2 linked regions of the Homo sapiens genome follow. The protein of the gene in region 1 purifies or fractionates together with the protein of each later gene. This does not show direct contact. Each region holds a gene or a part of one and is shown in the gene's direction. Other genes may lie near its edges. The genes, in order: EIF2S3B and ZNF326.

Region 1 (4,542 bases):
AAGGAGATGAGCCATCCTCTCACTTTCATTTATTACCCTCTTCCTTAAAACGAATATATCCATATACATATATATGAAGATATATATATATATATATATATATATATATATATATATATATATATGTTGGTAAGAATGTGAAGAAATTGGAACCCTAGCACATTGTTGATAAGAATGCACTATGAAAAAGGTGTATAGAGCTTCCTCAAAAATTAAGAGTAAAACTACCCATATAACCCAATAATATCACTTCTGGGTATACAGTATATCCAAAAGAATTAAAATTAGTATCTTGAAGAGATATCTGCACTCCCACATCAATGGTAGGATTATCAAGAATAAATAATATTTAAACAACCTAAATGTACACTGACAGATGAACAGATAAAGAAAATGTAGTATGTACATATGATGGAATATTCTTCAGCCTTAAAGAAAGAATATTCTGCCATTCATGACAACATGAATGACCCTTGAGGACATTAAGCTAAATAAAATAAGCCAGTCACAGAAGAACAAATGCTTTATGATTATACTATATGAGTTATCTAAAGTAGTCAAATTCATAGGAACAGAGAATGGTGGTTACCAGGGACTCACTTTCAATTGGTTAAGTTTCAGTTACGAAAGACGAATAAGTTCTAGAGATATACTGTACCACATAGTACGTATAGTTAGCAACAATACGTTGATCACTTTAAAATCTGCTAGGAGGGTAGATCTCATGTCAAGTGTCTTACTTGCCCTCTGCTCCCAAAATAAAGGTACTCAAGAAAAACTTTGTAGATGATAAACATGCCTACTATCTTCATTGGGTGATGGTATTACGAATGTATGCATATGTCCAAACTCATCAAATTGTATACGTTAAAAATGCACAGTTTTTTTGTATATAAACTATACCTCAATAAAGCTATTGTAATAAATCTCCAATATAGCATCTATTAATGGTCATCACTCCAACATAATTTGAAGAAATGAAAATTATAATATAAACCACGACATAGCTATTTGTTTCGAACAAAAAATAAATATATTAATAATTAATCTTCTTAAAGAAGAAAAATATTTAGTGTAGAATTATTCAGTGTGTTGCTGGTTTTGTGTCTTCTTAGAAATGTAATAGCAGGCTGTATATACAAGATCCATTTTCATATAAATAGATTACAATGGTCCATTAATTTTTTAAGTATTTATCTGTGGTCAACTGAAAATATATTTTCGACCCGCCTCGCATGGGCCCAGGGGGCGGGGGTTTGGGTGGCTGCCCTCAGTATTGCCTGCACAAATATCTACCAAGTCTGCGACGAATAGCTCCAGCAACTTTGCACCGTGTTTTCCAGTAAGCCTACCGACAGGCACTGTGCAGATTCAAGCAGAGAGAAGTCCAAGCACTGAGGCCGCTGCTGCACCGGCCATCCTGAGACCCTAGTCGACCTTCCGGCCTCCGCATCCCCGCCCCGCACTAGGACCCCTGCAGACGATCAGGCGGCAGCCGGGGTGACTTTCTTCCTCTTTTGGCAACATGGCGGGCGGAGAAGCTGGGGTGACTCTGGGGCAGCCGCACCTTTCGCGTCAGGATCTCACCACCTTGGATGTTACCAAGTTGACGCCACTTTCACACGAAGTTATCAGCAGACAAGCCACAATTAATATAGGTACAATTGGTCATGTAGCTCATGGGAAATCCACAGTCGTCAAAGCTATTTCTGGAGTTCACACCGTCAGGTTCAAAAATGAACTAGAAAGAAATATTACAATCAAGCTTGGATATGCTAATGCTAAGATTTATCAACTTGATGACCCAAGTTGCCCTCGGCCAGAATGTTATCGATCTTGTGGGAGCAGTATGCCTGATGAGTTTCCTACAGACATTCCAGGAACCAAAGGGAACTTCAGATTAGTCAGACATGTTTCCTTTGTTGACTGTCCTGGCCACGATATTTTGATGGCTACTATGCTGAACGGTGCAGCAGTGATGGATGCAGCTCTTCTGTTGATAGCTGGTAATGAATCTTGCCCTCAGCCTCAGACATCTGAACACCTGGCTGCTATAGAGATCATGAAACTGAAGCATATTTTGATTCTACAAAATAAAATTGATTTGGTAAAAGAAAGGCAGGCTAAAGAACAATACGAGCAGATCCTTGCGTTTGTCCAAGGTACAGTAGCAGAGGGAGCTCCCATTATTCCAATTTCGGCTCAGCTGAAATACAATATTGAAGTTGTTTGTGAGTACATAGTAAAGAAAATTCCAGTACCCCCAAGAGACTTTACTTCAGAGCCCCGGCTTATTGTTATTAGATCTTTTGATGTCAACAAACCTGGCTGTGAAGTTGATGACCTTAAGGGAGGTGTAGCTGGTGGTAGTATCCTAAAAGGAGTATTAAAGGTGGGCCAGGAGACAGAAGTAAGACCTGGTATTGTTTCCAAAGATAGTGAAGGAAAACTCATGTGTAAATCAATCTTTTCCAAAATTGTTTCACTTTTTGCGGAGCATAATGATCTGCAATATGCTGCTCCAGGCGGTCTTATTGGAGTTGGAACAAAAATTGACCCCACTTTGTGCCGGGCTGACAGAATGGTGGGGCAAATACTTGGTGCAGTCGGAGCTTTACCTGAGATATTCACAGAATTGGAAATTTCCTATTTCCTGCTTAGACGGCTTCTAGGTGTACGCACTGAAGGAGACAAGAAAGCAGCAAAGGTTCAAAAGCTGTCTAAGAATGAAGTGCTCATGGTGAACATAGGATCCCTGTCGACAGGAGGGAGAGTTAGTGCTGTCAAGGCCGATTTGGGCAAAATTGTTTTGACCAATCCAGTGTGCACAGAGGTAGGAGAAAAAATTGCCCTTAGCCGAAGAGTTGAAAAACACTGGCGTTTAATTGGTTGGGGTCAGATAAGAAGAGGAGTGACAATCAAGCCAACAGTAGATGATGACTGAAGAATACCGGTTAAATAATACATTCGGATGGAGCTGGAAGTTGCAATTTCTCTTTAACAACCAAGGGGTTTATTTTCAAAGCGATATTGGGGAATTGATTTCACAGTTTGTTACCTTAGTAGGTAACGGTAAGGTTATTCTCTCTTTTTTTTTTTGGTTATGAAAACTTAGGGACTACAATTAGTATAAAAATTGGCATAATGTTGGATTGAATCTACATTTTGGCAGAAGTTAAGCATTCCCACATAATGTCAAAATTATACATTATGCAGTTTTTTTGTTTGTTTTATTTTGTTTTGTTTTTGAGTCTGGCTTTGTCACCTAGGCTGGCATGTAGTGGCATGATCTGCAATCTCTGCCTCCCAGGTTCAAGCGATTCTCCTGCCTCAGCCCCCCAAGTAGCTGAGATTACAGGTGTGTGCCACCACACGGGGCTAATTTTTGTATTAGTAGAGACGGGGTTTCGGCATGTTGGCCAGGCCAGTCTCTCCTGACCTCAGGGTGATCAGCCCACCTCGGCCTCACAAAGTGCCGGGATTACAGGCGTGAGCCACCTTGCCTAGCCCACATCATGCAGTTTGAAATGAAACTTTGCCACAACCAGCCTTTGCTGTAGCACACACATATATCACTGAAACTGTTCGAAATAAAGTTTTTTTTTGTTTTTCATGATTCGTCTTTGAGTACCTCCAGGCTGAAGGACTGTTGTACCAGTAAAAACTTAAAGGCACAAATTATCCTTGAAGACCTTCTCCCTTTTCTTTGGCCCCATATTTTATGTTGCTTTATCTTTGAAATTTTGCATGAAAAGGATGCAATGAATGGGTTCGAATTGCATGAAAAGGATGCACGAATGGGTTCGAATGAAATTGTCCTTTAGAGCATGATTACTTGTTCCCATGGGCAAATAATTTTCTCCCCTTGCTCTTCCTGGCCTGAAATACGGGAAACTAGAGTCAGAAGTTATCTCCCTCTCCCTGTGATGCCTTGAGATGTTTTTCTGCATTGTTTTATGCCTGAAATCCAATAGTCTTCCTCCATTGGAAAATACTGTTATACCAAATAATTCTAGATGAGTAACAAAGATCCTTCTAGGCCTTCATTTTATGTTTTTTCTTAACTGTTATATGATTGTGACACAGATTATAATATTACTAATTTTTGGATGTTTCAAAAGGTCAATAAGTAAAAGATGTTAGAAAGCAAAAAAAAAAAAAAAAAAAAAAAAGAAAATATATTTTCTATCATGTTCTTCTGATAAAGTAATTCAAACTTTAACCAGCCCTGAAGACGGCATTGTGATTATACATCCCTGGGTTCTCCTGCTGACCTAAAGTAATATTAATCTCCATATATAACATTAAAATATATTCCCTTATTAGCTTAAGGGAATAAATGTGAATAATCAAATTTTTTCTTTTGTTAGTGTAGGGCAAATTAAAATTTTTCTGCTTTTTAAAGTTATGAAACCATAGACTCATAGAAAAAAAATTCTTCATATACAGGATTTAAGTATAAAAACTTGCGTGTACATATGTGTATATAAATTCTTAGAAAAGTTGTTAAAATCTCTTATATGTTAAAGCACATGAGAACCG
Region 2 (3,824 bases), on another chromosome or scaffold:
TTTGAGTGCCAGTAAAGGTGAGCATCATATAACTTTTTTCTTTTTAAACTCTTATAGGGATGGATCGTGACTATGGCCATGGATCCTATGGGGGTCAGAGATCCATGGATTCCTACCTAAACCAGTCATATGGCATGGACAATCACAGTGGTGGTGGTGGGGGTAGCAGGTAAATTGCTTAATCATTTGGCCAAATAATTAGACAACTATAAGATTTTGGATATATTATTTTAAGTACTCTTTAGGCATGTTATGATACTTGAACTTCACTGTTTGCTATTGAATCATCACCTTAAATATTTAAAGGTGTTAATTAATGGGTATAAAATTTAAATCAGTATTACTGGCAGACGTTATTTTAGGAAAACACCAGATAACTATATCATGTCAATATAATAGAGTAAGATACACTTTTTAGCAGTGAACTTTTAAAAAATTCTTTTACTTTTAACTTCTTGTCAATCAAAGTATCCTGAAAAATGATATAAAAATGTTATTGAAAATATTATTTATGAAGCTTTTTCTTAATAATTAAAAAAAATCTTTTCTAATGTGGGGTGCTATGTAAATTAGCAAAGCAGTCTAACTAGAATGGATTTTACTGAACCAGTCTAACATTTACTTTCCAAGAAACATTCAGGACATATTCCTTTAATTCTAATTTTAAAGGAAGAGCATATTGCAATAATAAAAATATTTTTAAAATTATGTTCAGGTTATTTATTGACAGGTACTACTTACACCAAAGCACTTGTGCTCTAGGCTAGAAGCATTGTATTAAAGCCATGAATACTATACCTTTGACTAGTCGAGATTGTATTTATATTTTCCTGTTACTACTGTATAAAGCTTAAACCTACTTAAACAACTACAAGCTTTAAGGTTGACCATATTTCAGGAGAAGGGGTGTCTACTTTTTGAGGCACAAAGGTTCCTGCTGAATATAAGTAAAACTAGTTAGTAGACATGTGAAACAGTCATCCTTCTGCATAAATTGAAGGATCCGGATTCCTTAATGATGGACTGAATGATGCTTACTTTCCTTCTTTCTGCTTCCAGTGTACCACTATGGTTTATAGTAAAGAAAAATTAAGAAAGTGAACAGTTGCAACTATTTTGCTTATGTGATAGATGTTTTGAAAAATGTAGTTGGAAATAGGAATAATTTTTATATGGTTACTAGGATTCAGAAGTAAATCTATTTAGTGATCTGTAAATAATTGAAGTAATGTAACACTTAATGTTTTAATATGTCAGTTATTGCCCTTTTATATTGTGAATGTAATGTGCATAAGCTATATCCGTAGATGTTATTGTTTTATCTCATGTGTAATTGTGGGCCTTTATAAAATTGTGTTGTAAGATATCAAGCAACTTTTGTAATCCATGCTTTGGGTTTGTGAGAAGGAAGATGATTTATTTCTTCTGTTAACTCTCTTAAAACCTCGAGGAGACTGTGTGCTCCCTTTTTTAGGGTAGTTTTATGTGATAATTTCCTGAAGGAAATAATTTTGCAAATAATTGAATATATTATAAGATGTATTCTTTCTCATCTGCCTTGAAAATTCATATGCAGAGGGTATATGTTGGTGATCTTTTATGTTTTATCTGTTTATCCTTCTAGATTTGTTAGATTTTCTAGTCTACAAGTAAAAAGTGATTGAGGATTGATTAATTGACCTTGGCTGAAGTTTGGCAGATTGTTAAATTTTTATAACCAGAGATAATTCCCCAAATTTTGACTCCTACAGACACAATGAAGCAGTTTGTGATATAGATTATTGGGAGTGCAAAAGGATCTCTCTGTGTCACAAATAACCTACATCTAAGTAGACTTCAATTTGTGTCCCTATTGAAAGCCAAAATATTGTAAATGTTTTGTAATTTTTAATATTAGGGATAGATTCAAAAAAGTTTGAATAGTTTGTGAACTTTAGCAAATGACCTTTTCCAAGACTAGGGCTGGGCTTAAATAATGACAGACAAATCTTTTCTTCTTCATAAAATAGAAAAGCTGCTAAGAAGCAGATTTTAAAGCTAAGTTTTACTAAACTCAATTCATATTTATAATCTGACTCAGATAGCTTTCTATCTGGTCTCACGTTGAACTGCCCAGCCCTAATCAAATGTGAACAAAAGTAGAACTGTGCAAACCAGTATGGTATAAATGAATTTTAGTTGATAAATGTCATCTGATAATTTGTCTTTTGAATTGTCTAACATTAGTAAGCTTACTTTTGTTTTTTCCCTCACTGTGCAACTTTTCCAGGTTTGGACCTTATGAGTCTTACGACTCCAGGTCTTCTCTGGGTGGGCGAGATCTGTACAGATCTGGCTATGGTTTTAATGAACCCGAACAAAGCCGCTTCGGAGGTAGTTATGGTGGTCGATTTGAGAGCTCCTACCGGAATAGCCTTGACTCTTTCGGAGGTAGAAACCAGGGCGGGTCTAGCTGGGAAGCACCTTACTCCCGTTCAAAATTGAGGCCTGGGTTTATGGAGGACAGAGGAAGAGAGAATTACTCTTCCTACAGCAGTTTTTCTTCACCCCATATGAAGCCTGCACCTGTAGGCTCTCGGGGGAGAGGAACGCCTGCTTATCCTGAAAGTACGTTTGGAAGCAGAAACTATGATGCTTTTGGAGGACCATCAACAGGCAGAGGCCGAGGCCGAGGAGTAAGTACAACAGAATCTTTTCAGATTCTTTTCACTAGTCACTCTTTTAAACCCTTTCAAGACCATCGTTTTCAACTAGAATAAACACTGTTCATCCCGGTGTATTTTGAAGCAAAAGCTGAGTCATAAACATAATTTTTAGGTTGACTGTAAAAGTTTTTCTAGCACCTCAGAAAATAAGTGGCAGTTTGAGATGATCATAAAGTTGTGCCAAATCTCCCTTTATTAAAAAGGTGAGGCTACTGGTTTGGTCTAAAAGGGGTTAAAAGGAGTTGCATTTTCCTTGTAAACACTAGCAGTTTTGCTGGTGGAATAGTTTGTGGATTATTGTGAAAGGTCACTGAACCCTTTTTGAGTTTTTGAGTAGGTTAAAGGTGCAATGTATGATAAAATGTTTATACTTTGTGGCTAAACTCTAGCAAGTAGAATTTCTTCAAAGCTCCATGTTTCACATTAAACACAGGAGACTAAAAGTTGATGATAGATCAGGATAGCTTAGCCATGTTTATGTGGTGAAGAAGTTGATGTGTATAATAGATTGTACAATGATTTGTGGTCAGTGTAATTTTGCTAACTCACGCTTACAATATGTCCAGTTGCTGGTTGTTTTATTTTCCCTCGTGTTACTAGTTTTACTCTTGAGAAATAATTTCCACCTGTACAGATATGTTTATGGTTTCTTCTTAGGAAGTAATATTTTGTAAATTATTGCTTAAATGAGTAAATATACTAGTCCACAGTTGTTTAAGTTTAGGGTACATAGTGTAAACATTATGCTTTATGTTCTTAGGTCACTTGATTGACATGAAAATTTACCTAGTAAGTGTATGCAGATTGTGGGGTTATTATATAGTTTGATCATTTAAAGAGTATTGTATTTTTGTTATAATGTAAGAATCCTTTTAAGTCAGCTGCTCTTAATATTTTATTTGCAGAGGAAAGTATTTCTAGTAAAAAAGGTAGTAGGGTACACGTTTTTGACTGGTTATTAGCTTTTGATATGTCAGTGTAGCTTGTTATACTTGTGTAGAAATTTTGCATTTTTAACAGTTACTCTTTACTTATGTAAAAATGCATTGCACCTTTAATGCGTAATTAAGGAAGATTTTCCTGTTGTGACTTTTTAAATTACCTGGAAACACAACTAGG

What was found.
Region 2: the proteins of EIF2S3B (region 1) and ZNF326 fractionate together in Homo sapiens (co-fractionation; one large-scale study listed by BioGRID). This does not show direct contact.

Annotation. Positions count from the first base shown.
Region 1 is NC_000012.12:10,504,378-10,508,919, forward strand, and holds EIF2S3B (eukaryotic translation initiation factor 2 subunit 3B), read left to right. Parts: upstream 1-1,512; 5' UTR 1,513-1,525; coding exon 1,526-2,944; 3' UTR 2,945-4,148; downstream 4,149-4,542. UniProt on the Homo sapiens protein: Member of the eIF2 complex that functions in the early steps of protein synthesis by forming a ternary complex with GTP and initiator tRNA.
Region 2 is NC_000001.11:90,005,076-90,008,899, forward strand, and holds part of ZNF326 (DBIRD complex subunit ZNF326), read left to right. Parts: exon of another isoform or gene 1-17; intron 18-57; coding exon 58-169; coding exon of another isoform or gene 170-173; exon of another isoform or gene 174-1,370; intron 1,371-2,269; coding exon 2,270-2,675; intron 2,676-3,824. UniProt on the Homo sapiens protein: Core component of the DBIRD complex, a multiprotein complex that acts at the interface between core mRNP particles and RNA polymerase II (RNAPII) and integrates transcript elongation with the regulation of alternative splicing: the DBIRD complex affects local transcript elongation rates and alternative splicing of a large set of exons embedded in (A + T)-rich DNA regions.